Regions from separate parts of the Homo sapiens genome. Here all the other regions are linked to region 4. Evidence: fine-mapped expression QTL. A gene starts in region 4. Each other region holds a variant in brackets. All regions are shown on one strand. Distances are between the middles of the regions.

Region 1 (7,764 bases), 29 kb after region 4:
ACCACTGCACTCCAGCCTGGGCGACAAGAGCGAAACTCGCATCTCGAAAAAAAAAAAAAGCCACTTTGCTCTGATTCTCGTATCAGAACTGGCTGGCTGGGAGGTCCTAGTGGAGTCATTTTAAAGACAAAAATAGAGATTGCTTTCCACCAACGTACAGGTAACCCCATCTCTTCACAAACCTCCTGAGGTTTGACCCTTTATTAATATCCTTCACCAAGATGCTCTTGCTGCTAAGTGGCTCTTGTTAAGTGGTGAGGACACAGCCTCCCACTTCAGCTCCCAGGAGGCCTTCCTTTCCTCTGCAGCCCTTTGCCCTGGGCCTGTGAGGTGTTGCTCCCTCTTCCCACCTAGACATGCTAAGAGCTGCTTTAAAGACTGCCCCTCTTTGCTCTGCAAATGAGGAAGAATCGATATTAATGAACTGTGATGTCTCTTTTCAAATACTGAGCAGAGACATCTGTGGGTAGAATTGCCAAACAGGAAAACATGGCCTCAGGTACCCTCCTATCTCAGTTCTATCAAATACCCCGCCATCAACAGCAGCTCCAACCTCTGCTCACTCCAAACTCTGTTCCTGAGAGCCTCCCTTCAGAGACCCACGTCCCTGAGCCTCCATTTGACTCAGGATTTGGTACCTGATACTTGGACTAGTGAAACTTCCTCTCCATCCCCAGCCTCTGGATGTGCTTTTAGGAGAATTAAATAGGGCAATATATGTGAAAATACTTTGGAAGCTGCAAAATTAAATTCTGCCTATGTTTTTTTAATTGACATCAGGCAACACGTCATTCTATAAAATAGAGTAAGTTTTCCCTCCACCAGATTCAAGTATGATGGGAATATTTACAAGTTTAAATACTGGGGATTCAGAAGTAGTCCAGGCATTACAGAAATCCCAGAAATGCAGATATTCCGTAATATGTGTTGACATTTTAAATGCTTATAGAGACATATAACTTGTTCTTAAAGGTGTATGAAACTATCTCTGCATTGGTTTATTTACTGTTCCTATAAGGTAAAGCTGGGGGCTAGGGGTCCTGGGCCATACACACATACACACACATACACACATGCCATATATATACATACACATACACATGCCCTATACACACACACACACACACCCAGGCCACACACACACCCACACACACACATATATATACACATACACACACACACACACACAGAGGCCATATATATATATATGTACACACACATGCCATATATATATACACACACACACACACACCAGGCCATGTCCATATACACATACACACACACACACAGAGGCCATACACACACAGACATACACACCATATGTAAATACACACAGGCCATATATATCATGCGCGCGCACACACACACACACATATACATATTTTTAGTGGAAACGGTTCCACTATGTTGCCCAGGCTGGTCTCAAACTCCTGACCCCAAGTAATCTATCCTCCCCACTTAGCCTCCCCAAGTGCTGAAATTACAGGCACGAGCCATCACACCCAGCTGCCTTGCCTTTTATGAAACAGACCCTCCTCAAAAAGCAGAAACGTGAGTGGGTCTAGACTCAGGCCAGGGAGCGGGAAGGCCGTAGATCCAGCTGGCCAGTGTCCCCAGATGATATGGGCCAAAGCAAGGGCCCCTGTGCATGAGCTCCTTTGATCTGTTTCTCTTTCCTTAAAGTATAAAGGGCTAAGAATTAAAAGAGGTGTTTGCTTTCTCCTTTGCAGTTTTGAGAGAGTTCTGGCCCAAATAATGTTATTGCTAAGAATAGTATACTTGAAGACAGCTTGTCCCTGCCAGACTAATTTTTTCTGATGGTGTTTCTATTTCACCTCCTCCCAGGTGTATCTTCCAACGTGGTCCCCATGTACTTAGGGGAGCTGGCCCCTAAAAACCTGCGGGGGGCTCTCGGGGTGGTGCCCCAGCTCTTCATCACTGTTGGCATCCTTGTGGCCCAGATCTTTGGTCTTCGGAATCTCCTTGCAAACGTAGATGGTGAGTTCAGGACATCTCGGGAGCACCCCCACCCCTTCACCACTACCCTTGGCCCCCTCCTTGTGTTCCAAAGCCACCACCACAGGACAGGACTTTCTGCAGACTGGTCTCTTCTAACAGGCTGGATGTCCTTGGGGGGCCCATCCTGTCCCGAGCCAACATAGCAGGCCATGGACAAAGGCGCGATAAGGGACTGGCCAGCGTTTACTATCTAGTCCCTCTTAGGAGATGGATGAGGTGGCTTTGAGTGATGGGCTTCCCTGCCTGCTCAGCAGCTGTCCATATGGAGGCCCGTGGCATAGCAATGACAGCCACCAGTGTGCCAGGCTCTGTGCTTGGGGCGGACCCAGCATCAGTTCATAGGACCCTCCCAGCAACGCTGCTGCCTGGGACTCAGTGATTATCCCATTTTGCAGACCAGAAAGAGAAGTACCAGGAGTGAGGGTGGCCTGGCCCCATGGGGGAGGTGGTGAGGACATCCCAGACCCTGCCTCCACCTTCCCCAAGACAGCCTGGGGCCTGGCATGCGGCAGGTGCACAGACACCTGTAACCGGGGTTGTTTTTGCACGACTTTCCCTTTAAACTATCATCAGTCATCCCGTCAGCCAAAACATAAGCCAGTTCCCGCCAGGGTTCTACACACCGTCTGCAAGTCAGTCAAGTGGATCATCAAGCTCTGTGCTGCTTAGACACTCTCTGTAGAAAGTGCTTACCGTGAGCCAAGTGCCAAGTCTTTTTTAGTAACTCATGTATTCCTCAGAACAGCCCTATTAAGCCTGTACCAGTATCATACCCATTTTGCAGGTGCATCACAGGTACAGAGAGATTGGAAGACTGGTCCAAGGTCTCATGAGGATGCAGACCCAGCGGCACAGACCTAGGTCCCTGTTTAAGTACCACATGCTCCTGCCTCTCCTTCACTCCTGCATGTGTTGGGGACACTTACGCCAAGGCGCCGCGTTCTCATTAGGAGCTGGGACCAGAAGTGAATAAGCCAGGTTCCTGTCTCAGGGAGCTCCATAGCAGGACTCAGAACCACACACGGCCCTCTAGGCATTTGTGAAGCTCTGTGCTTCATTTTTTTGCTTTGCCTCTAGTTTTGCCTTTGCAGTACCAATGCAGCCAGCCCATGTGTCCCCTCTATGTGGAATGTTAACGATATTCCCACTGTTTCTGGTGTCCTTTCTGTAATCAGAGCTGCCGTGACCATTCCAGTTCAGGCATCCTGGTGGCCTGGCTTCTCTGGGCATAGAGCTGGGAGTGGGCAGTTGGGTCAGGCCGGGTATGCCCAGCTCCTCCAGCCCCTGCAAGACTGTCCTCTGAAGGACACGGGGACGTTCTCACCAGCACATGGTATTACCGGCCTCGTCGGTGTGGTCTGTCTGATGGGCGCAGGGGTGCGTCGCTGCTGATCCCTGCTGCAGGTGTTTCCCGAGTGTCCACCGTCGGGAGTTGCTGTTCTTAGGGCTGGGAAAGCTGTGCCCTCCTGGAGCCTGCACCCCACTCAGGATGACGGGGCTGGGGCCGGCTCTGCAGAGGGCGCCTTCGGGGTGGTGGGGAGGCCGCTGGTGCCAGCTCGCTGCCTTCCTCCCAGGCTGGCCGATCCTGCTGGGGCTGACCGGGGTCCCCGCGGCGCTGCAGCTCCTTCTGCTGCCCTTCTTCCCCGAGAGCCCCAGGTACCTGCTGATTCAGAAGAAAGACGAAGCGGCCGCCAAGAAAGGTAACGAGGGCTCTGGCGGGGGCGGCCTCCAGGTTCTGCTCCCCAGCCCTGGTCCGACGGTGCCGCTTCTCCCCAGCCCTACAGACGCTGCGCGGCTGGGACTCTGTGGACAGGGAGGTGGCCGAGATCCGGCAGGAGGATGAGGCAGAGAAGGCCGCGGGCTTCATCTCCGTGCTGAAGCTGTTCCGGATGCGCTCGCTGCGCTGGCAGCTGCTGTCCATCATCGTCCTCATGGGCGGCCAGCAGCTGTCGGGCGTCAACGCTGTATGGGCCGGGCTGCGGCTCGGGAGCTGGGGAGGGCTCGGGGGGCGCGGGGCGCAGGTCCTGGGGCGCCGGGCGTGGGTCCTGGCGCCGAGGCCGCCTCCTCCGGGCAGCCGCCCAGCCCCGCGCTTGCC[T/C]TGCAGATCTACTACTACGCGGACCAGATCTACCTGAGCGCCGGCGTGCCGGAGGAGCACGTGCAGTACGTGACGGCCGGCACCGGGGCCGTGAACGTGGTCATGACCTTCTGCGCCGTGAGTGTCCTGGGAGCTGCCCACAGCCTCCACCCAAGGCCCCTCGGGCCCCACGCCCCAGCCTCGGCGCCGCCAAAAGGGCAGCCCGTGGCCCCAAAACGTGGAGGACCAGCCGCTACTACAGAAACTCTGTGTGGGAGGTGGCCCCGCACCAGCCCCTCACACTTGGGGCTGCCGAGCCGCACCGGGCCCGGGGCCACCACCTGACCGGGATGTAGGCGTGCCTGGACCAGGCAGCGCCCACTGCTGGGTGGCTCCGAGCCCGGGCTACCCGGAGTGAGGCTCGGCCACCTCGGGATGGGAGCAGGCTCCGTGGGGGCAGCGTCTCCGGTGCATGCAGACATCTGGCCTCCCGAGGGCAGGAATCCTGAGGCTCAGGGTTGTGGGATTAGGAGGCCCTAGAGCTGAGTCTCAAGGGTGGGCAGCTGGGGTCCCGCATCACAGCCACAGCCGACTTCCCGCTGGCTGCCCAAGGGCATGTCTTGCACATGTGAATGTGAGTGTGCGTGCACATGGGTGGGCACCCGGTCCGCCCAGCTCTCCTCACAGCTGCCCCATTGGAGGGGGCTGGAGGGAGGTGAAGCTGGGCCTCTCCCGCCTGAGCCCTGCCACCCTCCTGTAGGTGTTCGTGGTGGAGCTCCTGGGTCGGAGGCTGCTGCTGCTGCTGGGCTTCTCCATCTGCCTCATAGCCTGCTGCGTGCTCACTGCAGCTCTGGCACTGCAGGTGAGGACAGGCCAGGGTCCCAGGAGCCCGGAGCTGCACCAGGAAGACCAGTGCCCCTCCCATCCTGCGCCTCCACCTGCCTTAAAATAAAAGGGGTCACAATGAGCTGTTTTAGCAAATACAACTGGCCAGACATCTGGGGACCGTGTGTCCTGCCAGCTCATAGCCCACGTTCAGCTGATTTCCCAGTGGCTCATCGAGGTGGCACTGCTGGGGGAGGAGCCAGGTGCCATCCTCCACCCACCAGGGCAGGTTGGCCGCCCCCTGGGGTCCCGTCCTAGCTTGTCTGCTCCAGGTGAACCAACTGCTTTCTCTCCACAGGACACAGTGTCCTGGATGCCATACATCAGCATCGTCTGTGTCATCTCCTACGTCATAGGACATGCCCTCGGGCCCAGTACGTACCCAAAGCTGGCCTCAGGGTGTCACAACCCCCCCTGGTCCCAGAAGCTCCGGGCTGGAGCTCCTTAGAGATACCAGGGATGGCCAATGCAGCCTGGAAATGGCATCTCTTCCCCCGTCCACCGCAAGGGGGTGGGTGGCACATAATGAGAGCGAAATGGTAAAATGGTGGTGTGGGTGGGAACACACAGACTGTGCAGGCAGCAGAGTGGGCCTAACGGGTGGTTGCTGGCCTGCCATCCCTGTACACTGCCGTTTGCCCCCTACGTGCTGCCCCACATGCCCAAGAGTCCTGGAGACGCCTCTGTCCTGGGGCCAGCTACCTGGTGGGTCTGCATGGCCAGGCCTGGGATGCTCGGGCCCGCTCTGCCTTCAGGGAGGCTGCTCTCCTCCCCCTACAGGTCCCATACCCGCGCTGCTCATCACTGAGATCTTCCTGCAGTCCTCTCGGCCATCTGCCTTCATGGTGGGGGGCAGTGTGCACTGGCTCTCCAACTTCACCGTGGGCTTGATCTTCCCGTTCATCCAGGTGAGTGGGGCCCGGGGCCCACGCTCACCACCAGATCCCCATGCAGTACAGTGCGAGCCCCTGGGCAAACCACGTCCCACACGTGTCACCTGCCCCTCTTCCCGCAGGAGGGCCTCGGCCCGTACAGCTTCATTGTCTTCGCCGTGATCTGCCTCCTCACCACCATCTACATCTTCTTGATTGTCCCGGAGACCAAGGCCAAGACGTTCATAGAGATCAACCAGATTTTCACCAAGATGAATAAGGTGTCTGAAGTGTACCCGGAAAAGGAGGAACTGAAAGAGCTTCCACCTGTCACTTCGGAACAGTGACTCTGGAGAGGAAGCCAGTGGAGCTGGTCTGCCAGGGGCTTCCCACTTTGGCTTATTTTTCTGACTTCTAGCTGTCTGTGAATATCCAGAAATAAAACAACTCTGATGTGGAATGCAGTCCTCATCTCCAGCCTCCCCACCCCAGTGGGAACTGTGCAAAGGGCTGCCTTGCTGTTCTTGAAGCTGGGCTGTCTCTCTCCATGTTGGCCTGTCACCAGACCCGAGTCAATTAAACAGCTGGTCCTCCACTTTGCTGGTTCAGCCTTCGTGTGGCTCCTGGTAACGTGGCTCCACCTTGATGGGTCAACCTTTGTGTGGCTCCTGGTAACATAACAACAACAGTTACTATAGTGGTGAGATGGAAGGAATCAAATTTTGCCAGAGAAACTAACTTGGTGGCCCCGACAGGTCTTCCGGGGCCATGGGCATTTGTTTAGAGCCAAATTCATCCTCTTACCAGATCCTTTTCCAGAAATACCTGTCTAGGAAGGTGTGATGTCAGAAACAATGACATCCAGAAAGCTGAGGAACAGGTTCCTGTGGAGACACTGAGTCAGAATTCTTCATCCTAAATTATTTTGTTAGTGGAAAATGGAATTGCTTCTGTGTAGTCAATAAAATGAACCTGATCACTTTTCAACAAGACGTGCTGCTGTTCTTTGAGCAAGTAGAAGGCAGGAGGAAGTTCCCTGCTCATTCAGGCAGTGTTTTTTTTGTTTTTATTTTTGCTTTTTTTTTTTTTTTTAAGACGGAGTCTCGCTCTGTCACCCAGGCTGGAGTGCAGTGGTGCGATCTCAGCTCACTGCAAACTCCACCTCCCGGGTTCACACCATTCTCCTGCCTCAGCCTCCTGAGTAGCTGGGACTACAGGCGCCTGCCACCACGCCCGGCTAACTTTTTTGTATTTTTAGTAGAGACTGGGTTTCACTGTGTTGGCCAGGATAGTCTCAATCTCCTGACCTCATGATCCGCCCACCTAGGCCCCTCAAAGTGCTGGGATTACAGGTGTGAGCCACTGCGCCCGGCCACTTCAGGCAGTTTGACTGCACGAGTGTCAGTTCCTTGAGGGCAGGGGCTTGGTCAGTTTTGTTTATGCCTGAATCCCCAGCATCTCGAAGAGGGCCTCTGGAGGCTGAGGTGGGAGGATTGCTTAAGCCTGGGAAGTAGAGGTTGCAGTGAGCTGAAATTGCACCCTATACTCCAGCCTGGGCAACACAGTGAGATCCCATCTCAAAAAAAATTTTTTTAATTGGGCATGGTGACACGCCTTTGGGGTCCCAGCTATTTGGGAGGCTGAAATGGGAGGATCGCTTGAGCCTGGGAGGTCAAGGCTGCCCTGAGTCATGATTGCATCACTGCACACCAGCCTGCATGACAGAATGAGACCTTGTCTCAAATAAATAAATACATGTAAGATTGAGGAAGCTTCCAAATGTCCTCACATATGTAATGAAATCTTGAGGAGTCTTAAAATCTTGAGACTGTGGTGGGGGAGGAAGGGAAAAGGAACAGGGTCTTGATATGGTTTGGCTGTGTCCCCACCCAAATCTCATCTTGAATTGTAGCT
Region 2 (7,764 bases), 53 kb before region 4:
ACAAAGCTGTATGTACGAAGGTGTTTGTGAGGCACTTATGGTGAGAATTTGGAAGTGACCTCAAGGTCCAACAGTGGGGGAACAGGAAGTTAAGAGTCTACCCTCCCCTTCTGAAATGGTATGCAGCTCTTTGATACTGGTTTTGAATTCTGTAAGTCATTTTTTTAAATGATATGATTCAATGCGAAGTGACAGAAACCATCGCTAACACTGATTACAGCCACATAAAGGCAGGAGGTTAGAGAGAATCCTGCACGTGCACAAGTTCCCAGGAGAGCACCTGCGTGGCCCCCTTTACAGAGAGAGGAGGGCAGTTTAGACCTCATCCTCAGGAAATCACATTTCAGCATGAGCTGTGTCTGGCCCCTGATGTTTGCAGAGTGCTGTTCCATTCATTAGCTCACTAATCACCAATAACCCAACAGGGCCAGGAGTGGTAGCTCACACCTGTAATCCCAGCACTTTGGGAGGCTGAGGCAGGAGGATCACTTCAGCCCAGGAGGTTGAGGCTGCAGTGAGCCGAGACCACCACTGCATTCCAGCCGGAGTGACAGAGTGAGACCTGTCTCAAAAAAAAAGAAAAAGAAAAAAAAAGTAACCCAACAGAATGGATGGGTGGGGTGATTACCCTCATAGCAGATGTGATGGCCCAGGGCTACATAGCTAGTAAGGTATTGTGGGATCTGGCCAGCAGCCGGCAATGCAATGGGGCTCTCTCTTTGTTCCCAGGCAGATCGGCAGGTCAAGAAATAATAGACACACACAAGATAGTGAAAGCTGGGTCCAACAGGGGGGTCGCCCGCGGTGCCAACAATGCACTGGATATACCAGCATTTATTATTAAGTTTAGTGAGGGCGGGGGTAGGTTAGTGAGGGATTTAGGGTCATTTGATTATGAGGTGAGACGGTCACATGGTGATGAAGTAATTCTTTAACATAACATCTGTATGCAGAAGTACAGTATACAGGGATAAGAATTTACAATATAGTGTGTGCATCAGTAATTTCTAACAGAGCCTTAAAACAGAAATACAGTCTTTCCATAACCTATGATTAGCAAGATATTAATCAGCAGTAACAGTTGCAGCAAAAGCTGGTTACAAACAATCCATAGCAACGGGAGGTGAAGCTAGACAACCAGTTAGACCAGAAATTCTCAGAAGGGAGTATGCCATAACCCTAAAGAGGCCTAGAAGAGCCGTGGGGTGTTTATAGGTGAGGGCGTTTATAGCCCTATGTTGTCCATATGGACAGGCACACCCCATGAGTCCGTTTATAGGCTCTCCACAAGGGTCGCATTCCATTCCCAGAGCTATGAACATCTGCTTTTCTGGGATAGGAATCTTGGTGATGTGAAACCTCCCTGACTGCACGTCCATTCATAGGCTCTCTGCAGGGGGAAGCACATCACGCGCTGTTGGCTCATTCTGGCAGTCCAACCTGGCATTGTCTTTACACAATCCTGCATGCAATTTTGTATTTACAATAATCAGGAGCATTTCATCTTTTATGCCATACCAATAGTTTCAGGGAGTCTCCCTTCAGTAAAGGAGAGGCTCAGAGTTAGAATCTACTTCTGACCCAGTCCAAGACTCCTTTTAGGAGTCTATGTTGTCTTTTGGCTGTAACAGGTTTTAAAAACTGAGATACAATTTCAACAATAATTTATTTTTAGGTTGGGCACAGTGGCTCACGCCAGTAGTCCCAGCAGTTTGGGAGGCTGAGGTGGATGGATTACTTGAGCCCAGGAGTTTGAGACCAGCCTGGGCAACATGGCAAAATCCTGTCTCTACAAAAAATTTAAAAAATTAGCCGAGTGTGGTGGTGTGCGGCTGCAGTCCCAGCTCCTCAGGAGGCTGAGATGAGAGGATCACTTAAGCCCAGGAGGCAGAGGTTGCAGTGAGCTGAGATTGTGCCATTGTACTCCAGCCTGGGTGACAGAGCAAGACCCTATCTCAAAACAATTAAAATTAAATATTTGTATATATATTTAATATTATATATATATAATATTAAATATATATTTAATATTAAATATATATAATATTAAATATATAATATTAAATATATATTTAAAATTATATATAAATACATATTTAAAATTAAATATATATTAAATATATATTTAATATTAAATATATATTTAATATATATTTAATATTAATGTATATTTAAAATATATTTAATTTTAAATATATATTAAATATACATTAATATTAAATATATATTTAAAATATATTTAAATATATATTTAAATTAGATATATTTAAATATATATTTAAATTAAATATATATTTTGAATATATAATTTATATATTTTTAAAATATATATTTAAATTAAATATATATTTTAATATGTATTTAAATTAAATATATATATTTTAATATGTATTTAAATTAAATATATATTTAAATTAAATATATATATTTAATTTAAATATATATTTAAATTAAATATATATATTTAAATTAAATATATATATTTTAATATATATTTAAATTAAATATATATTAATTTAAATATATATTTAAATATATATATTTAAATATATATTTAAATTAATATATATTTAAATATATATTTTAATAAATATATATATAAATTTTATTTATATATATATATATATATTTTTTTTTTTTCCCACCCAAGACAGTTTCACTCTTGTTGCCCAGGCTGGGGTACAATGGTGCGATCTCTCGGCTCACTGCAACCTCCACCTCCCGTGTTCAAGTGACTCTCCTGCCTCAGCCTTCCAAGTAGCTGGGATGACAGGCATGCGCCACCATGCCTGGCTAATTTGGTATTTTTAGTAGAGATGGGGTTTCACCGTGTTGCTCAGGCTGATCTCAAACTCCTGACCTCAAGTGATCCACCCACCTCAGCCTCCCAAAGTGCTGGGATTACAGGTGTGAGCCACCGCAGCTGGCCTTTATTGAGATTTTTGTCCGTGGACTAACAGTGTCCCTGATAGCAAAGGAAAATCTTGGCTTGTATGTTGACTTAATTTTCATATATCTTTATTCTCCTTCCATCTGAAACAGTTCTCCCACCTTTCTTGGTGTTTTATGATACTGACATTTTTGAAGAGTACAGTCCCGGTATTTTATAGAAAGCCTCTCAATTTGGGTTTGTCTGGTGCTTCCTCATAAGTGGGTTCAGGTTGTGCATGTTTGGCAGGATATCCCAGAAACATGTTTTTCTCATTGCTTTCTACCTGGTGGCCAGCAACTTGGACATATTCCCTTACTGGTGATGTTAACTCTCATCACTGGGCTAAGGTGATATCTGCCAAGTTCCTGCACTGCAAGTTAACTCTTTTCCCTTTTGTAGTTAAGAAGTGTCTTGCTGAGAGACAACGGTGGCTCGAAAGCCTATCACGTCTCCAGCTTTCACCCAAGCGTTTCGTGTCCACTGATTCTGACAGCATTTTGAATTTTTTGGTGGCAGTTGCTTTTTTAAGGTTGTGTGAGATACTCAATGTTCAGGGGAAGTCCCTGTGTTTAAGAAGTCCCTTTCTACTCTGTCTTAGCTGGTGAGGCGGCTCCCACAGACGTCCTTGTCTTTGACTTTCATGTGGTGTGCCTGAGTGGCTGTGTGTTTACCACGCCCACCTGAGGGAGGCCAGAGCTGCTGTGGAGGGGGTCATTTCCCCACCTCCCACATAAGGGGACCTGCCTTTCCAAGAGTGGCGCAGCCCTTCCTCCCCTCACGGTGGTGGGCGCCAGCGTGATGCCAGACCAGGGTCAGCAGGGGTGAGGTGACCACCCCCTCCACCAGGACCTCCATGGGGCCAGGCATCAGCTGTATGGCCTGTGAGCATAGGGGGGCTGCTAAAGGGTCGGGACAGCTCATTTGGGGGTCAGAAGGAAGCGTCCTGGCCGAGCCGGTTCATCTCGGGAATCTCTGAGTTTCTTCTGGCCCCGCTGAGCTGGGGGCAGGTGTGGGTATGACTCCAGCAGGGTCTAGCCCCCGTGCCTCTCACACACACGTTCATCCACCCTCTAGGGTTACAGAGGAAGCAAGAGTCTGTGACCCCCCATGTTTGCCATAAAAACCCTGCTCTGGGGGCAGTGGGAAGTCCCAACGTAGCAAAAAGGGGAAACCTGGGCCTGGAGCTGGAAGGTTGTCAGAGTTCTCTAATTTGTTTTTTGTTTGTTTGTTTTGAGATGGAGTCTAGCTCTGTCACCCAGGCTGGAGTGAAGTGGCGCAATCTCGGCTCACTGCAGCTTCCACTTCCTGGGTTCAAGCCATTCTCCTGCCTCAGCCTCCCATGTAGCTGGGAATACAGGCGTACACCACCACGTCTGGCTAATTTTTTTGTATTTTTAGTAGAGACGGTGTTTTACCCTGTTGGCCAGGCTGGTCTCAAACTCCTGACCTCAAATGATCCACCTGCCTCGGCCT[C/T]CCTAAGTTCTGGGATTACAGGTATGAGCCACCACACCTGGCCTGTTTTGTTTTGTTTTGTTTTTTTGAGACAGAGTCTGGCTCTGTCACCCAGGCTGGAGTGCAGTGGTGTGATCTCTACTCAGTACAGCCTCTATCTCCCAGGTTCAAGCGATTCTCCTGCCTCAGCCTCCCAAGTAGCTGGGATCACAGGCGTGCGCCACCACTCCCGGCTAATTTTGTATTTTTAGTAAAGACGGGATTTTACCATGTTGGCCAGGCTGGTCTCGAACTCCTGACCTCATGTGATCCAGCCACCTCGCCCTCCCAAAGTGCTGGGATTACAGGCGTGAGCCACCGCACCTGGCCTGAGTTCTCTAATTTGAAACGAGCTCACCGTGGCACTGCAAGGACAAGCCAGTGGCAGAGCTGGCCCGTCTCCCCAGGCAGTGGCATCTGAATGAGGGATGGATGCAGTGGCCACATGAATAGTACCCCATGTCGGCCACTACTCCTGAAAATATCAATCATTGAACTGGTTTCGTTTATTTCCCCATAAAAGTTTTCTGAGGTGACTGGTGAAGGTGGCAGCGCTGTGTCCCTGTGTGCAGCAGGAAGCTCATGGCAGAGCGCTGAGCACCAGCAACTTGGCAGGAGGTGTGAGAACTCAGGCTGCCCATCCCTGAGCTGAGGGCTACAGACGGTGGCACTAGGGCATGAGTGTGCATCTGCGAGTTCCTTTAGACATTCCTCTCCCCTTCTGCAGTTAAAGCTGCAGAGTGACCTCGTGGTAGCCTGGCCTAGGGGCTGACTCCCTGAACTTCTCCCAAGTCCTGACCCTTCTGCCGCTGGAGCTGGACAATAAGTGTCCATTGTTCCCAGGGAAGAAACCTCCAGGCAGCCTCTCACCAGGCCTCACTCCCTACAGCTGGGCTTCCCCCAGCCCTGCTCTGTCCTGAGGTTTTTAAATTGGCATATTGTTGCACAAGAGTTTGGTTCTCAAAGCGTTTTCTGAGTTATGTTAACATCCCCAGGTCTCATGGTACCTACACCAGGCATTGTGTTTGGCCCAGAGAAGGGACCTGCTTGTTTTCCTCCTGGCAGGTGCCAGCCCCCAGAGATCTGTAGGAAGGATGAAGTTTGGGGTGGGGAAAAGGTACAGGAATCCCAGGGTGGGGGCAGGTGATTGAGCAGACTCTGCCTTGAGCCCCCTTCAGTCTAACCTCTGACCCCTTCCTGGCAGCAGGGATGGCATCCTAAGGGTCTTTGAAAACCAGTGGGCTGCTTTTCAATATAACTGTCCATTTGTGTGTGAAGTGGAGGTGTGTCTCCCTGTCTGCAGGTGCCCCCACCCTGACTCTGGTGGGGACAGGTTCCAGGAACCACACAACAGAAGATCCCCGGTTGGGCAGCGCTGGGAACTCCCAAGGACCCGCTCTGAAGGGCAGGGAAACCGAGAGCATTGCTGTCCTGGGGACAAGTGGCCTGCCTGTGGTCATCTGACCGACACCACGACACCACGCAGGGGAATTCAGGTCTCGCAGATGGTTTATTCACTGCTTGGCTAATCCCCGGCAGTACTTCCACTTCCTTTCTCTGGAGGACACTTAAAAGGTGTTGAGTTCCAAAAAGGGCTAAGCTCCTGACAAGTATGAATGGCTTTTTGTCATTTTCTCCTCCATGAGCTGGTGGAGGGTCCCGGCCCAGCTTTGCCAATCTGGGCATTGTGGGGGTAGGGAGTTTCCAAGTCATCCCTGACCTCTGAGATTGGGGGCCCTAGGAGCTGGGATAGTACCGCCTGCCAGGACACATGTCTCTCCCGCCTAGTCTGTAGAAAGCCTCAGGCTGCCCTAACAAAGTACCACAGCCTGGGGGCTTAGACAACAGAAATTTATTTTCTCACAGTTTTGGAGGCTGAAGTGCAAGGTCCAGGTGAGGGCAGGACTGGTTCTTCCTGAGGCCTCTCTCCTTGACATGTATATGGCCATCTTCTCCCTGCGTCTTCACTTGATCTTCCCTTTGTAAAGATCTGTGTGCTCATCACTTCTTGTTTTTGTTGTTGTTTGTTTTTTTGAAGACAGAGTCTTGGCCGGTCATTGTGGTTCACGTCTGTAATCCCAGCACTTTGGGAGGCCGAGGTGGGCGGATCACCTGAGGTCAGGAGTTCAAGACCAGTCTGGCCAACATGGTGAAACCCCGTCTCTACTAAAAATACAAAAATTAGCTGGGTGTAATGGTGGATGCCTGTGATCCCAGCTATTTGGGAGGCTGAGGCAGAAGAATCGCTTGAACCTGGGAGGCGGAGGTTTGCCATGAGCCAAGATCACGCCAGTGCACTCCAGCCTGGGAGACACAGTGAGATTCCATCTCAAAAAAAAAAAAAAAAAAAGGCAGGGTCTCACTCTCACCCAGGCTAGAGTGCAGTGGCACAGTCACGGCTCACTGCAGCCTCAACCTCCTGGGTTCAAGCGGTTCTCCCGCCTCAGCCTCCTGGGTAGCTGGGACTTCAGGTGTGTGCCACCACGCCTGGCTAATTTATGTATTTTTTTGTAGAGACAGGGTCTCACTTTGTTGCCCAGGCTGGTCTCAAACTCTCCTGGGTTCAAGTGATCCTTTGGCCTCCCAGAGTGCTGGGATTACAGGTGTGAGCCACCATGCCCAGCCTTTCCTCTTAAGTTATGACCACAGAGGTTGTTAGGTTAGGTTCCACTCTGATGACTGCATTTTAACTTAATCACCTCTTGAAAGACCCTATCTCTCAAATACACTCACATTCTGAGGTTCTGGGGATTAGGACTTCAACAGATGAAATTTGTAGGGGACACAATTGAACCCTTAACGGCCTCTGAGTGGGAAGGAAGCCGACTTGGAGTCTGGCTTTCATTTCTAGGCAAATACAAGTTGGAACTGGGGCCCAGGTACCTCTGGGAGAAGCTTGTGGTGCCCCTGCCAATCAGAGTTACACACGAGGTGGCTGTCCCGGGCTTCCTCCGTCCAGGCAGGCTCAGCTTGGCCTCCTCCCAGCCTCAGAGTCACAGGTTTAGACAGGAGGGGCCTTATGGGTCACCTGCTCTAACCCACATCCCCACCTTGCACCCCCACCCAGCACCTGTCATGGCACCCCCTGAACATGAGCACTCACCTTCTCTCAGTGGAAGCTGCCTATTCAGCCCCCAGATTTAGGACTGGGCAGGACCCCGCCCATTCCTCCGGCATCTAACCACTTCTCCACCACCAGGTCCTCTTCAAGACTTTTTAACCATTTGAGGATAGCTCAAGGCCCAGCGTCTCTTTACATGCTCCTCAGGTGACCTGGCACTGGCGCCAGCTTGTCAGTCTCAGGTTTAGAATGTGAGCTGCAGATGTCCACTCACAGGCAG
Region 3 (7,764 bases), 25 kb before region 4:
AGTGGCAGTTTCACTAGCAGGGTCTCAGAGTAGGAGAGAACAACATTGGGGTATTTATTCTTTTTTTTTTTTTTTTTTTTTGAGACGGAGTCTTGCTCTGTCACCCAGGCTGGAGTACAGTGGCACGATCTCGGCTCATCGCGATCTCCAACTCCCAGGTTCAAGCAATTCTCCTGCCTCAGCCTCCCTAGCAGCTGGGAGTACAGGCATGCGCCACCACACCTGGCTAATTTAATTTTTGTATTTTTAGTAGAGACAGGGTTTAGCCATGTTGGCCAGGCTGGTCTTGAACTCCTGACCTTGTGATCCACCTGCCTCTGCCTCCCAAAATGCTGGGATTACAGGCGTGAACCACCACGCCTAGTCCATATTTTTGAAGATCAAAACATATAGTTTCAGATGAGTCTTTCAGCCTTCTTGGGATTAGCAAGTCGTGATGTAATCCTTTCACACATGTGAGCACAGCATGATGAGGATTTGCTGGTGGCTAGTTGAATGAGTTTTGAGTCTAAGCTATCATTGGATGCTTTCTATTGAAGAGCTGATGAATCTTTCCAGGAAGTTCCTGGAGTGAACCATAAAGTTATTTGCAGCAGTTGTCTTGCAGGACAAGAATCTCCTGGGCATAGTGAAGTGATATTGATGAAGGCAGCCGTGTGTTTATCAAGTCATCTTACAGTAGACAAGCTGAGGGGATGGCTTTGATTCTCCAAGGAAACGAGAAGCAGGTGGGTCCCGACGACCAGGTTTGTGAACGACGAGGCTCTGGAAAGAGAGAGACTGAGTTCCAACTATGGCTCCATTGTTTATTATACTTGATCTTGGCCACAAGGCCGAGAAGTGGACTCCATCTTTTATTTATTTATTATTATTATTTTTTTTGGAGACGGAGTCTTGCTCTGTTGCCCAGGATGGAGTGCAATGGTGTGATCTTGGCCTACTGCAACCTTCACCTTCTGGGTTCAAGCGATTCTCCTGCCCCAGCCTTCCATGTAACTGAGACTACAGGCACATGCTACCATGCCCAGCTAATTTTTGTATTTTTAGTAGAGATGGGGTTTTGCCATGTTGGCCAGGCTGGTCTTGAACTCCTGACCTCAGGTGATCCACCTGCCTCAGCCTCCCAAAGTGCTAGGATTACAGGCATGAGCTGCTGTACCTGGCCCATTATTTATCCTTGTATTACTCTGAGAAAATGTTGACCTCACTCAGCCACAGGTTCATCTAAAATGGGGTGATATTGAGGCTTAAATGAAATCTAATGCTTCTAAAGCTGCCTTTGCAAAAATTATGACAGTGAGAGAAATCCAACATTGTTGATTCTGTCTTGCTTCTAAGCTCCAGGCTGTCCTTGGTCATTCCTGAGTATGGGCCAAGCTAACTTTGGGAGAAATTTAGTTTAGAGTTTAACCTTAAAGCAAGGATGATAATAGCCCTTCTCAAAACTAAACCACCTTTGTAAAACTAATGAAAGTCCACAAGGTTAGGATTATGAGAGGGGCCTGAATTCTGCTAAGATGTAGGCATAGGTAAATGACTACCAGCCATTGTTCCAGAGGTCACAAGACTTATAACCTCCCCAATTACTCCCGTAAGTAACATCACTATTGTAGAACCTAAGATTTGCTTTTTGAGATGTCTCAGACTTGTATTTCTGATGATGGCTAACTCTACCTGGACTCATGACTCAACCCATCCTGTGGCCCCACCCAGAGGAGGACTCAGCACTGTAAGACTTAAAGAAACAAGAAAGAAACACAAAATGTGGCTTGACAGTTAAGGACAGGTTTATTTTAGAGAAAACAAACCTGAGAGGGGCTTCCGGCTGAGTTAGGTCAGAGAGCCCTTCTCTCTGACAGACTAAGGATATTTAAGGGTTTTTTGGAAGGTGGGTGAGCTTATTGTAGGTTCAGAATGTTTCTATGTGAGGGAAAATTTATTGCGGGGTTAGAATGTCTCTGGTCAGAGGGGAGGCTGTCTTGGGGTTGGCATGTTTCTGGTCAGAGAGGGGTTTATCTTAGCATTGGAATGTTTCCAGTTATGCTAATATTGGCCATTAGGCTGATGTTCTGGGGCTGGATTTAGGCGGTTTTTCATCCATCAACGGGAACGTAGGATGGCGGTGTTTGTTCAAGATGGCAATGTTCCTGCTCTGTCAATCCAGTCCCTATAGTTATAAAAAGGATGAGGGGCGGCGTGTTCTTTCTGGCTACTTCCTGCTGAGGGCTGGGGGGCAGAGGGCGGAGAGTTCTTTGGTTTCGGATTAATTACAGGAGTAACTCCATTGTAGATGTTTTTGGGTAGTTGGTTGTCAGATGGCCATGATCCTGTTGGTTAAAAAGCTTTGAAAATGGTTCATTAAGCAGGGTAAGAACATTAGTCCTAGGCATATTATTAGGAGAGGGCCCAGGAATGGGATGACCCATGTTAGGATTTTGTGTTTAAACCAAGAATTTACTTGGTTGTCTTGGTATTCTCTTAGCTTTTTAGTCCTTTCTTTAAGTTTTTTTAGCAGCATCTCTTACTAGGCCCTATTGGTTGAGACAGAAGCAACATTCTTCACCCAGTGAGAGGCAGAGGCTCCAGTTTTCAGCCGTTATAAGATTTAGCCCTTGTCTATTTTGGAGGACTACTTCAGCCAAGGAGTCTAATTGGTCTTGGACTCATATAAGGCTTTGGGCCATATCTTCTAATGAATCCTGCAGGTCTGTTGACAGAGCTTTAAAGTATGTTAAGGAGGTGGGTAATCCTCCTGCTCCCAACCCAGTCCCAGAGGTTATACCTAAGGTGGCCATTAAAGGAATGACTTGGATGGCCCTCCTTTTTCTAACATACTGGACGGATGGGATGGATAAAGGCTGATTAGGAGGAACTAAGCCAATGGTGGGAGACAGAAAAACTAGGGTACAGGTTCCAGTCCAGTTGGTGGGGAGAAAAAGATATGTGTTGGTGCCACACAAAAAGAATAAGGCTTTGTCGTAAATATAGGCAGAGATATGGAAAGAAAATAAGTGAATTAAAGATGGGATATTTTTCCTTTCCTGTGGTTCATTACTCCAGGTGGACAAGGAGGAGGCCAAGGAGACACACCTACTATAGTAGAGATATAGGAGGAGTATAGGAGGAGGGTTTTTTGTTTTTTCAGACAGAGTTTCCCTCTTGTTGCCCAGACTGGAGGGCAATGGCGCGATCTCGGCTCACCGCAACCTCTGCCTCCTGGGTTCAAGCGATTCTCCTGTCTCAGCCTCCAGAGTAGCTGGGATTACAGGCACATGCCATCACGCCCGGCTAATTTTGTATTTTAGTAGAGACGGGGTTTCTCCATGTTGGTCAGACTGGTCTTGAACTCCCAATCTCAGGTGATCCGCCCACCTCAGCCTCCCAAAGTGCTGGGAATACAGGCGTGAGCCACCGTGCCCATCTGGAGGAGTTTTTTTTACACATCTAATGTGGTCAGATGTTGCGCCACTGATACTGAGCCACGGAAAAATGTGGGCACTAGGGGAAGCAGAGGTTAGGCCAGGGGGAGGGGCAGTAAAAGGAGCCGTTGCAGGAATGCTCCGTTCGCTTCAGGCAATACTTGGTAGTCAACCGGGTGAGTGTGATGGTCAGAGGGGTGCTTAACAATGATAGTGTGGCTGCATTAGTTAGAAGTTAAGAACCCTACAGGGAAACTTCCCCCAGAGGCTGAAAAGCAAATTGAGGCTTGTTGTAAAAGGGGCGTGTGTTTAGTTATGGGCCCTTCAATGGGAGGGCCTTGGGGCTTAAGGTGTTCTAGGGAGTTGTAATCGGTTTGAAATAATTTGTTGGCCTGATCTGCCCTGGAAATGGGATAATTGCCGACCAGCATGTCAGCTTTTTCCAAAAACGAAGCTCCTTTTTGGAGTTGATAGATTAGGGTTATGTTTCCTGTTAAAAGGTCATGAAGGGGTGCAGGAAGGGCTGTGTAAGCTGAGGAAGACAGCGGTAAGCACATCCAGGTCTCCGAAAAAAAGGAACAGTTAGCTTGCCACAAGAGAGATTGTGTAAGGTTTATAGAGCGTTCTAGTTTGAGCAGTAAGGAGTGGTTGTATTGGTGAGGTTGATGTGATTAGGGAATTTATATTGAAAGAAACAAGCAAAAAGAGAAAAAAGTTATTTGGGTAAGAGTAAAGTCCTGGAAAGCTCCTTGAAGCCATAGGTCCCATAGAATAGTGAGGAGCTGATCAGGATGTACAGTGGGAGTTTCATAAGCATACCACTGATGGTCTGTAGTAAGGTTGGTTAGGAAGTGATGAAAGTTTGG[GA/A]GACAAAGAGACATAAGCGGCTTATGTGCACTCCTCCTCCTTTTCCTCCAGGATTTGGGTGAGGCGAAGGGAAGTTGGTCCTGTGGAGATGTAACAGAAGGCTGAAGGGGTTTTAGATTTGGTTGTTTGGGTATGTGGTGAAGGGAAGTCTGTTTTCTTGAGAGAAAAATGATGAAACCAGCTGGGGAGTCCCTGGAGTTTTGCTGCTGTGGGTGTAGTAACGATGATCTGGTAAGGTCCCTTCCATTTAGGTGTGAGGTGGGGATTGGGGGTAGGGCTGAGATCTTTTACTAGAACCCAGTCTCCTGGCTGTAGGAAGGGATTAAAGGAGTTGGCGATGGGTTGTGGCAAGTATTTGTCGGCGTATTCCCAAATGAAATGGCGGATGGTATGCAGAAGAGGGGAAACGAGAGGGGTTTGTAGAGGTGGGGCTTGACCCTGAGGTGCAGCAAAAGGGGCGAGTGGTCTCCTATACATGAGTACAAAGGGTCTGAGCATTAGAGGCTTACGTGGGAGCGCCCAAATTTTTGGAAGGGCTAAAGGCAAAAGGGTAACCCAGTCTTTATGTGTCTGGAGTGAGTACCTGGTGAGGGTGTTTTTTAAAATGCCGTTCATTTTCTCAACCTTTCCTGAAGACTGAGGTTGATAGGGGATGCATAGCTTCCAGGTGATTTGTAGGGCTCCTGCAAGTGTTTGAGTAATTTGAGAAATGGATTCAGGACCATTATCAGATTGAAAAGAAAGAGGCACCCTGAACCTGGGGATGATTTCTGTTATTAATTTGGAGGCGACAGTAGAAGCTCGTTTGTTTGTTGTGGGAAAGGCCTCAACCCATCCCGAAAAGGTATCAACCAGAACTAAAAGAAATTGAACCCTTTTTACTGGGGGCATATGGGTAAAATCAATTTGCCAATCCTGTTTTGGAAGGTGTCCTCTGGCTTGGTGGGTTGGGAAAGAAGGGGGTATTGGAGTGGGGTGAAGCTTTTTGGCAAATAGAGCATTGATGGGAAATGGCTTTTAACTCTTCCTTTATATCTGGGGTTAAGTGTATATGGAAACTTAAGAAATGGTGTAGAGGGAAATGGCTAGTGTGGAAGAGGTTGTGAATGTCCCGTAGAAGAGTTGTTTATTCAGGGTCAGGTAGGACTAATTTGTTTTGTATGAACCAGTATGTAGGGTTTGAATTGTGCCCCCACTGTGGTTAGTTGTTGTGTTTGGTGTTCTGGATAAAAAGAGGGGATATGTTGTATGAGGGGAAATAGATATTGGGGAATTGGGTGATTGGTTGAGGCATGTTTTACCCAAGTCAGCCTCATTGTTCCCTAAAGAAATGTGGCTTTTGTCCGATTGATGTACGTTGCAATGGATAACTGCAACCTTTTCTGGAAGTAGAACTGCCGTTAATAGATGATGGATGGGTTTTTCATTAATGATAGGGGTTCCCTGAGCCGTGAGATAGCCCCACTCACTCCAAATTTGAGCACTGGAATGAATAATGTTATAGGCATATTTAGAATCGGTGTATATATTAAAGTGTGTGTGTTTTTGCTAGAGCTAGTGCTCTTATTAGGGCAACTAGTTCTGCTTGTCGGGAGGGTGTGCCCAAAGGCAAGGGAGCAGCCTCTGTGACTTTTCTAGGTGGGAGAAAGTGGATATTATCATGATACCCTCCAATGATGGCATATCCTGCTTTGAGGGGAGGGTTTTTTGATGCGCTCCCATCTATAAACCAATCTGGGACTCCTTTTATGTGAGTGGAAGTAAGGTGGTAAAACATGGTGAGAGAACTTTCAATTAGATTAGAGCATGAGTGTTGGTCAGGGTTTAAAATTGGCATTGAAGGTAAGAGTGGTAGGATTAACAGGGGGCATCATGAAGAGAGATAGAGGGTTGAGAGAGTTGAATATAGGGCTTGCACATGAGAGGATGAGATGGAGATGAGCACCTTATGGCTGACCATATCTTGTAGACTGTGAGAAGGAAATACTTGAAGAGGTTCATAGAACGTGAGCTTTTGTGTGTAATTATTGAAGCTGTGGCCAAAAATTTTAAGCAAAGAGGCCAGCTTTTATAAACGGGGTCCAGTTGTTTGGAAAAATATGCCACTGGTTGGAGGGAGTTTCCCATGGGTTGGGCTAGAAGTCTAAGGGCCTGATTATGAGAACTATGTAAATATAGATGAAAAGGTCTTAGCGGATTTGGAAGGCCTAAAGCGGGGTCCTGTAATAAGGCATGTTTTAGGTGCAAGAAAGCATGATAGAAGGTCTGGGATGGGAGTAAGTAGTTGGTCAAGATTTCCTTTAGTGTGTTAATAAAGGAGTTTAGCAATAATGGCAAAATTTGCTATCCATATTCAGAAATAGCCCACTAATCCGAGGAAGGAAAGTAAGTCCCTTCTTATTTTAGGAAATGGGATTTGTTGAACACGTTGCTTTTGTGCTGACAGAATATCCTGGATATTCGGAGTTATGATTAATCCTAGGTATGAAACTTTCGGAGATGTTAATTGGGCCTTTCTTTTGGATTCCTAGTACCCATTCAGCCAAAAAATTTAAAAGCTTGGTGGTGTGTTGAATACAATATTTTAGGGAATGGCTGCAAAGGAGTAAATTGTCCACATATTGAAGCAAAATGCTAGGTTGTAGAGGTAGTTGGGAGAGGTCTAATTGAAGTGCCTGACAGAAATAGTGAGGGCTGTCCCTAAACCCCTGGGGGAGGACAGTCAGGTGAGTTGTTGGGAGCAGCCTGTGTCAGGATCAGTCCAAGTGAGAGCAAAAAGATTTTGAGAGGAGGTATGTAGAGGGATAGTAAAAAAGGCATCTTTAAGGCTTATTACAGAGAAGTTGCTAGTGTTGGGAGGAATTCATGACAGGAGGTTATAGGGGTTGGGGACAACAGGATAAACAGGAACAAAAGCGGAGTTGATTTGTCGCAAATCCTGATCCAGTCTATAGGAGCCATCCTGTTTTTTAATTGGGAGAATAGGATTATTGTGGGAAGAATGGGTGGGGATTAAAATATTGGCAGCCAAAAGTTGAGAGATGATGGGCTTGAGTCCCCGTAATCCATTCAGGATTGAGGGGATATTGTAGGACCACTATATAGTGCTTAGGATTCTTCAGTGAAATTTGGATTGGAGAATGGTGGGTAGCTATTATGCAGAAGTCAGTGTTCCATACTATGGGGTTTACTTGGCTGAGGAATTTGGGATTTAAGTCTGTTTGATGTTGAATGTCTGAGGAGGGGTCTGTTCTTGACATAATAATATATAAGAGTGGCTTTGGTTTAGGGCCAATAAATGAATGATTCCCCCTAGTTTGTGTAGAATGTCCCTTCTTAATAAAGGAGTGGGACAGTGAGGAATGACCAAAAAAGAGTGAGGGTGACTCCCTGAAATGAGCAGTATAGTGGCAGTGTTTTGTTTCTTATATGCCCCTCACGCCAACAGAAACGGATGAATGTTCTAATGGGCCTTCAT
Region 4 (7,764 bases):
GACAAGAGTCTCGCTCTGTCACCCAGGCTGAAGTGTAGTAGTGCGATCTCAGCTCACTGCAACTTCCGCCTCTTGGGTTCAAGCGATTCTCCTACTTCAGCCTCCCAAGTAGTTGGAATTACAGGCGCACACCACCACGACCGGCTAATTTTTTTTTTTTTTTTGGCATTTTTAGTAGAAACGGGGTTTCACCATGTTGGCCAGGCTGGTCTCGAACTTCTGACCTCAAGTGATCCACTTGCCCCAGCCTCCCAAAGTGCTGGGTTTACAGGCTACCACGCCTGGCCTAGTTGTGTTTTATTATAACAGTAACAGAAACGCTCCTATTTCCTCTCCCCCATCCTATCACCAAGTGATTGTCAATTTTCCATCCTAAATATCCCTCAAGTGTATCTACTTCTGTCTTCTCCATCCCCATGCTGGTCCAAGTCACATTGTTCTTTCACCTGGGCTACGGCAAAGACCTTCCACTGCTCCTTCTCCCCACTTCCAAATCCAGCGGTCTCTTGTCCCCTCATCAGTTCACCTCTGGACATCCAGATGGAACTTTAATTTTTAATTTTTTTTATTTCTAGGGACAGGGTCTTGCTCTGTCACCTAGGCTGGAGTGCAGTGGCATGATCGAATTCCTGGGCTCAAGCGATCCTCTTGCCTCAGGTTTGCCAGGACCACTCCCCTCCCCCCAGTCCCACCTCACCGCTGCCATCCCCCTCCTCCATCTTTGAGCCACTAGGCTTCTCACAGTCTCCCACCCCGCCCTGCTCGCGGAGCCTGCAGGCCTCGGCCTCATGGCGGCCTGAGGCAGGGGCCTGGAGGCTGGTCCGCCCGCCACGAAGGTTGGGGGGTCCCTGGCCAGAAGCAGGACCCGGGCGAGGCTGAGGGGGACTCTGGCAGAAGCTGAAGGGGACCCGGGTGAGGCTGAGGGGGACTCGGGCAAAGGCGGAGGGGAACCCGGGCTGAGGCTGGGGGGGATCTGGGCTGAGGCAGAGGGGGACCGAGGCTGAGGGGGACCCGGGCTGAGGCAGAGGCCGAGGGGGACCCGGGCTGAGGCAGAGGCCGAGGGGGATCCGGGCTGAGGCAGAGGGGTCCTGGGCAGGGACAGGACCCACCCGGAGCCCGCAGGCCCGCCAGGCAGAGGGACTGGCTGAGCGGCCCGCAGCCTGGCGTCATGACGGCCTCCCGCCACGCCCCCGTCCCCGCGCTCGGCTCCCTCCAGGGCGGAAGCACGGGTCGAGCGTTGGTGACGCCATGGCTGTGCTTGCGACGCCCTGTCACTGGCAGGAACCGGGTACTGCGGCCCGCAGCTCCCGGGATGATCCCCTCTGGGCCTGAGGGCCTGGCTCACTGTCCCCGCTTCCCCGGGCTGGGCCGTCAAGGCGGGGACTGGGAGTGTCCGCGTCCCCCCCAGCGACCCCCGGTTTTAGTTACCCCCTCGCCCAAAGGCAGGGAGAAGTGGAAGATCTGGGCCTAGATAGAAGCAGGTGTCATGCACTTGACATGACTGATGACTACAAACTTTGGACGATTATTTTTGGGGGGAGGATGGGGGACGGAGATGAGTCTCGCTCTGTCGCCCAGGCTGGAGTGCAGTGGTGTGATCTAGGTGCGCTGCAACCTCCGCCTCCCGGGTTCCAGCTATTCTCCTGCCTCAGCCTCCCAAGTAGCTGGGATTACAGGCGTCTGCCACCATGCCTGGCTAATTTTTGTATTTTCGGTAAAGACAGGGTTTCACCATGTTGGTCAGACTGGTCTCGAACTCCTGACCTCAGGTGATCCACCCACCTTGGCTTCCCCAGGTGCTGGGATTACAGGCGTGAGCCACCGCGCCCGGCCGGATTCTTCTTTGTGTTGGATTGCACACCTGTACCCGTCTCCTCACTCCCCCATCGTTGATTTCCTCTCCCCACCCTACCCCTGCAATTAAAGTGCATTTTCTTTGGAAACTTTTTCTAGATCTTTGAAATAATTGGAAACCTCTGGTCTTGCTATGCGTTAGTCACAAGTCAGTGTGCTAGGACAGTGATACGCAGAAGAAAAAGACAGGCAGTAGCTGGTGAAAGGGAATGCTGAGTTCTCCCTTGTGAATAGGGACCCCCCCGACCCCCCAACACACACACACACACAGACGGCCACGCTGCTAGGCTTCTCACAGTCTCCCACCCTGAGCAACCCTGGGGATTTGCTGCTAATGCAAGGAACAGTGCCTAACACAGGCTCCCAGTCTCTGCTTGTTTAAAGATGCATGAGATTCAGAATCAATCACTAAAGTAACTGGATTTACGCCACAGCAAATAGAACTGGGAGTATGTTCTGTAAAGATGAAAACCTGTGGGACTTGTGAGACTTTGGATTTTGGCCACTTGCGCTGGTGTGCCCTGTGGCAGCTGAATGAGTGCCAAACATGGGGGGCTGACAGTGGCCTGGCCTTGAGATGGCCGGACCCGGACCAGCAGGTGTGACTCATTTTCCCTGCCCTGCCTGGAAAGGGGTTCGAGGTATTTACCACCTTCCCAGTAGTGATGAATACACAGAAAGTAACATCCCTAGGTCATTCTGAGCTCCTTAAAATGGAAAATAAGAGGCCGGACACGATGGCTCACGCCTGTAATCCCAGCACTTTGGGAGGCCAAGGAGGGTGGATCACTTGAGGTCAGGAGTTCGAGACCAGCCTGGCCAACATGGCAAAACCCCGTGTCTACTAAAAATATAAAAATTAGCCGAGCGTGGTAGTGCACGCCTGTAATCCCAGCTACTCAGGAGGTGGAAGCAGGAGAATCGCTTGAACTCGGGAGGCGGAGGTTGTAGTGAGCTGAGATCATGCCACTGCACTCCAGCCTGGGACAAGAGCGAAACTCCGTCTCAAAAAAAAAAAAAAAAAAAAAAAAAAACAGAAAATGAGAAACTTTCCCCAAACAGTATTACACGGTGACTTGGGCAAAACTGACTCTCCACCAAGAGACACTTGACTGTAGTTTTCCTGGCAGGGAGAGCATCTTTGAGGTCTCTAGTGGCCCAATCTGTTGCCCTCAGATTACCTGGTGTCATGTAGGGTGGAGGACAGCTGTTGTTTGCCATGCGTTCCTGACAGAAATAACCCTTCCAGTCATTCACCATGAGCCTGACTGGTAGAGACTTTAGCAATGGGGAAATACCGTAGACTGTTCCATCAGGACAATGCTGGGCCTGCAGTCCCCAGGGGGCACCCACTTACTTAGCCAAACCCCAGACGTTTCATTTAAAAGCAGAAGTGAAAGGAAGACCAGGTTCCTGAAAGGGTTATTCTGACTTAATCTGGCTATAAAAATGCTATTGGCTGTTATTTGGCATGGCCAAAGTGCACCCAGAATGTCTTCTCTCTCCATTCAGTGCACGCGTTACTTTGGCTAAAAGGAGGTGAGCGGCACTCTGCCCTTCCAGAGCAAGCATGGAGCAACAGGATCAGAGCATGAAGGAAGGGGTGAGTGTGTTGCTCAGGGAAAGGGGCCAAGAGCAGGCTTGGCTGCCAGGGCCTGTGCAGCCTTCCTGGAGAGTCGCTGGGGGGCTCCTGGTGTTGCAGAGGGAACTCTGTGTTGGGAGGGATTATGGTGGGGAGAGGGGGAAAGTCTTGTCCAGCAGGTGGTCTTTTATAGGGAGGAGAGAGGTTTAGAGACAAGTGCTCTGTGGAAATCATTCTACTGGAACAGCCTTTAACAGCAGGATCTGTAACTGAATGGAAGAGACCCAAAGGATTCATTTGTCCCAACTTGAACCAAACATGTTAGCTGCAAAATCCTTCTATGGTTGGTGAGATGTTTCGCTCTGCTTTCGTTTTGCTTTTGGCTTCAGGGCAGTTAATTTTTTCAGCAAGTAACATAGCTGAGCTGCATGAAAGCAAGATAAACTCAGAAAAGGCGTTGCTTGATTTGAATTTAGTTCAGATCTGTCACGTAGGTTTCCTGCCTTTTAGATCCTGAGGCTCCCTTGTTTTAGAGAGGAAAGATTTTCATGGACTCCTGCAACGTAATTGCAGTTTACTTTCTAGATTCCCTTGATTGAGGAAAATGCATAATGTCAGAAAAGTAACACTGACTTATTAACACTTTATAAGAATTTGCATTTATTCATCACAATAGCATCTGCTTATATTTGGAGTGGAGGAAGGATAGTGCACATTTTTGCAAAACAGCATTTGTTCAGGCATGGATGTGAGACCCTCACCATAGGCAGACTGGAAACATGCTCTGTAGCACATAGATTAAGAGTGGGTCTTGGGAGGCTGAGGTGGGTGGATCACCTGAGGTCAGCAGTTCGAGACCAGCCTGGCCAACATGGTGAAACCCCATCTCTACTAAAAATACAAAAATTAGCCAGGCGTGGTGGCAGGTGCCTGTAATCCCAGCTACTCAGGAGGCTGAGGCAGGAGAATCACTTGAACCTGGGAAACAGAGGCTGCAATGAGCTGAGATCACGCCATTGCACTCCAGCCTGGTCAACAAGAGCGAAACTTCATCTCAAAAAAAAAAAAAAAAAAAGAGTGGGCCTGGGAAGTAGAAGCCCCCAGGATTCATTCCTGCTCCATCCTATTCTAGCTGTGGGACTTGGGTAAGTTCTTTAACTCTTCAGTGCCTCAGTTTTCTCATTTGTAAAATGGGAGTAATAACCATACCGCCTCATAGGGTGCTGGAGCAATTAAATGAGATAATGCATGTAAAGTACCTGGCACAGAGTGAGTTCCCCGTAAATGTTACTACTTTTCTTTCTCTCTCTCTCGCTTTTTTTTTTTTTTTTTTTTGACACAGAGTCTTGCTCTGTCACCCAGGCTGAAGTACAGTGGTGCGATCAAGGTTCACTGCAACCTCCACCTTCTGGGCTCAAGCGATCCTCCCACCTCAGCCTCCCAAGTAGCTGGGATTACAGGCATGCACCACCACACCCGGCTAATTTTTGTATTTTTAGTAGAGATGGGGTTTCACCATGTTGGCCAGGCTGGTCTAGAACTCCTGACCTCAGGTGATCCGCCCGCCTCGGCCTCCCAAAGTGCTGGGGTTACAGGTGTGAGCCACCGCGCCCGGCCATCGTAAATGTTACTACTTTTCAATCATTCTTTAGGCTGGTTTCTCCACCTCCGCGTGATTTCCATTTGGCACTGGCTAACGCTTCGTTGTAGGGGCTGTCTTGTGTGTTATAAGATGTTTAGCCGCGTCCCTGGCTCTACCTTCTAGACGCAGTAGCTCCCTCCCCCAGGAGTGACAACCGATGTCCCCGAGAGGGCAGAATCCACTCCCAGCCCTCAACTGAGAGGCACTGCTTTGGAGTCTACTCAGCCCCTTCGCTTGGGTCATCTTGTTTGTCTTACAACTAAGAAAGTGTTAGACAAATCAAGTGTCATCACCTCCATTTTATAGAAAAGAAACGGAGGTGATGAGGACTTAGGTGTTTGGGGTCCAGGGAGGTCCTCCGCTGTCCAGAGAAAGGCACAACTGCCACGTTCCCCACGTCCACCAAGTCCAGCTGCAGAAAGGAATGGAAACACCCCCACGTGGCAGGCCCTGAAACTGAGTAACACATTGCGAAAGGAAATGATTCAGATGGCCACATGCGAGAGGCATGGGCTGACCCAGCTGCCTGCTGCCTCAGCCCTCCAGGGAAGGAAGCCTCCTCTGGGCCAGAGGGATGAAGGTGGGGATGGGCTTCCCGCTCCTGAGAGCAGCCTGCCCCTTGGGGAGAAAGCTGGGGCGTGCTGGGCTTCCCAAAACACTCTGAAGGAAGCGATCCCAATGGTCTGTAAGAATCCGGGAAATCATTAAGTGCAGCCGAGAGGGGAGGTAGGAGCCAAGGAGAAATGCGGGGGCAGGCGAAGGCTACAGAGGCTGCGCGGTCCGGGGAGGAGGGCGTCTGGCAGTATGGAGCCAGCTGCCTGCCCCTCAGTGGTTGTGTGGCAGTGGCCTCACTGGCCTTTTCTCTTCTTTTTCTTTCTTTTTCCTTTTTTTTTTTTTTTAATTTTGAGACAGGGTCTTACTCTGTTGGCCAGGCCAGAGTGCAATGGTGGGATCATAGCTCACCGCGGCCTTGAAGTCCGGGGCTCCAGCAATCCTCCCACCTCAGCCTCCCGAGTAGCTGGGACTACAGGCATGTAGCACCACCCTTGGCTAATTTTTAAATATTTTGAAGAGACGGGGTCTCACTATACCCAGGCTGGTCTTGGGCTACTGGGCTCAAGTGTGCCTTCTGCCTCAGCCTCCCAAAGTGCTTGGATTGTAGGCCTGAGCCACTGCACTCAGCCCTGCTTTTCTCCTATGTAGAGGGCAAACACTGACATCTATCAGATGTGCACCAAGGACTTTCTGCCAGGAAGAAAAGACTGTTGGTCTGAAAGAAAAAAAAATAAAATGGATTAGGAAAAGAAAAAGGTACAACAAGGTATTTTACAACTACATAAGAATTGAGGGCCAGGTGCAGTGGCTCTGGCCTATAATCCCATCAGTTTGGGAGGCCGAGGCAAGCGGATTGCTTGAGCCCACAAGTTTGGGACCAGCCTGGGCAACATGGCGAAACTTGGTCTCTACAAAGTGTACAAAAATTAGCTGGGCATGGGGACCGTGCCTATAGTCCCAGCTGCTCTAGAGGCTGAGGTGGGAGGATCGCCTGAGCCTGGGAGGTAGAGTTTGCAGTGAGCAGAGATAGTGCCACTGCGCTCCAGCCTGCGTGACTCCAGCCAGAGTGAGATTCTGTCTCAAAAAAAAAACAAAGGATTGTTGAATAAAGTTCCCCACCTCAATAAAAAGATGCCGAAGTGCTTTGGAAAATAAAGACACATTTTTGTGGAGTGGCTCCACCAGCAACTAGTTGAGTATCCTAGAGCAACTGACACCCCTCTGTGCTCTCCGGGTCCTCACTGATATTCATTTGTAATTAATGGATTAATTAACCCATTTGTAACACCTACTACAGACCAGGCATGGTCCTAAGTGTTCTATACCAGTGAACTCATTTATTCCTGTGGTGGTATCATTATCCTCAAAAAAAAATTTTTTTTTTGAGGCAGGGTCTGGCTCTATCACCCAGGCAGGAGTACAGTGGCACAATCACGGCTCATTGCAGCCTCCTGGGCTCAAGAGATACTCCTGCCTTGTTTTTAAATTTTTTCGTAGAGACGAGGTCTCACTATGTTGCCCAGGCTGGTCTCAAACTCCTGGGCTCAAGCCATCCTCCTGCCTCGGCCTCCCAAAGTGCTGGGATTATAGGCATGGACCACCAGGCCAGGCCCATTATCCCCATTCTAAAGGTGAAGGAACTGAGAAGCTCAGGGAGTTGCCCAAGGCCACACAGCCCAGCAGAGCCAGGCTTCGAGCCCACACTCCTGGGCTCCAGAAACTGTGCTCCAAACCACCGCAGCGGCTGACGATGCTCATCTCTCCCTGCCCCTCCCACTACCTGTTTGTGAAACTGAGTTCAACAGTGTGATAAAGTGACATAGCTTGAAGTACTGATCCTCCATGAGCGCTAACTACTCCGGGGTGTTTGCATTCTGACTGCAGATTCCTAACAAGGAAAAGCTTTGAACTGAGAGAATGTCTCTCTGACAACAGAAACTTCAGGATGGATTTCTAAGGGAGATGGTTTGGGCTTCCTTCCCAGTGACCTTGAATCGTACCCTGTCAGAAGGTCAGCCTTGAGGATTGTCAACCTAAAAAAAGAAACTGTAGCAAAATGAATGTAGAGAGTGTACTGGGGCCAAGGTTGAGGACTGTAGCCCTGGGAAACACTGGGAAGTACTTTGGAGAG

Which allele goes with the higher level. Positions count from the first base shown, and alleles are read on the strand shown. Sizes are in standard deviations (SD) of each study's normalised expression. Not every link is listed here.
For the expression in prefrontal cortex of the gene that starts at base 3,326 in region 4, T is the high allele of the variant in region 2 and C is the other (moderate effect, 0.57 SD a copy in GTEx).

The links. PIP is the estimated chance that this variant, and not a neighbour inherited with it, causes the effect.
Region 1: its variant is the best candidate, but not a certain one, in a credible set for the expression of SLC2A5 in whole blood (INTERVAL, PIP 0.62).
Region 2: its variant is the best candidate, but not a certain one, in a credible set for the expression of SLC2A5 in prefrontal cortex (GTEx, PIP 0.53).
Region 3: its variant is the best candidate, but not a certain one, in a credible set for the expression of SLC2A5 in whole blood (TOPMed, PIP 0.81).

Annotation. Positions count from the first base shown.
Region 1 is chr1:9,036,019-9,043,782 of GRCh38, reverse strand. It overlaps SLC2A5 (solute carrier family 2 member 5), which reads left to right. Exons shown (of 12, transcript NM_003039.3): 5 at 1,846-1,998; 6 at 3,594-3,719; 7 at 3,796-3,983; 8 at 4,121-4,231; 9 at 4,854-4,955; 10 at 5,277-5,352; 11 at 5,759-5,886; 12 at 5,994-7,764. The coding sequence ends at 6,197. Among named protein-coding and RNA genes, the nearest start is that of SLC2A7, 13 kb to the right of the region's middle. RefSeq lists a silencer at 3,587-3,787 and enhancers at 5,999-6,078, 6,519-6,588. The variant T/C (reference allele first, on the strand shown) is at 4,115.
Region 2 is chr1:9,118,040-9,125,803 of GRCh38, reverse strand. All of the region lies in intron 1 of GPR157 (G protein-coupled receptor 157), which reads left to right. Among named protein-coding and RNA genes, the nearest start is that of GPR157, 7.2 kb to the left of the region's middle. RefSeq lists enhancers at 3,182-3,682, 3,683-4,183. The variant C/T (reference allele first, on the strand shown) is at 4,406.
Region 3 is chr1:9,089,994-9,097,757 of GRCh38, reverse strand. It overlaps a transcript of SLC2A5 not described here. Among named protein-coding and RNA genes, the nearest start is that of SLC2A5, 24 kb to the right of the region's middle. The variant GA/A (reference allele first, on the strand shown) is at 4,286.
Region 4 is chr1:9,065,197-9,072,960 of GRCh38, reverse strand. SLC2A5 (solute carrier family 2 member 5) reads left to right here and starts at 3,326. Exons shown (of 12, transcript NM_003039.3): 1 at 3,326-3,457. The coding sequence starts at 3,425.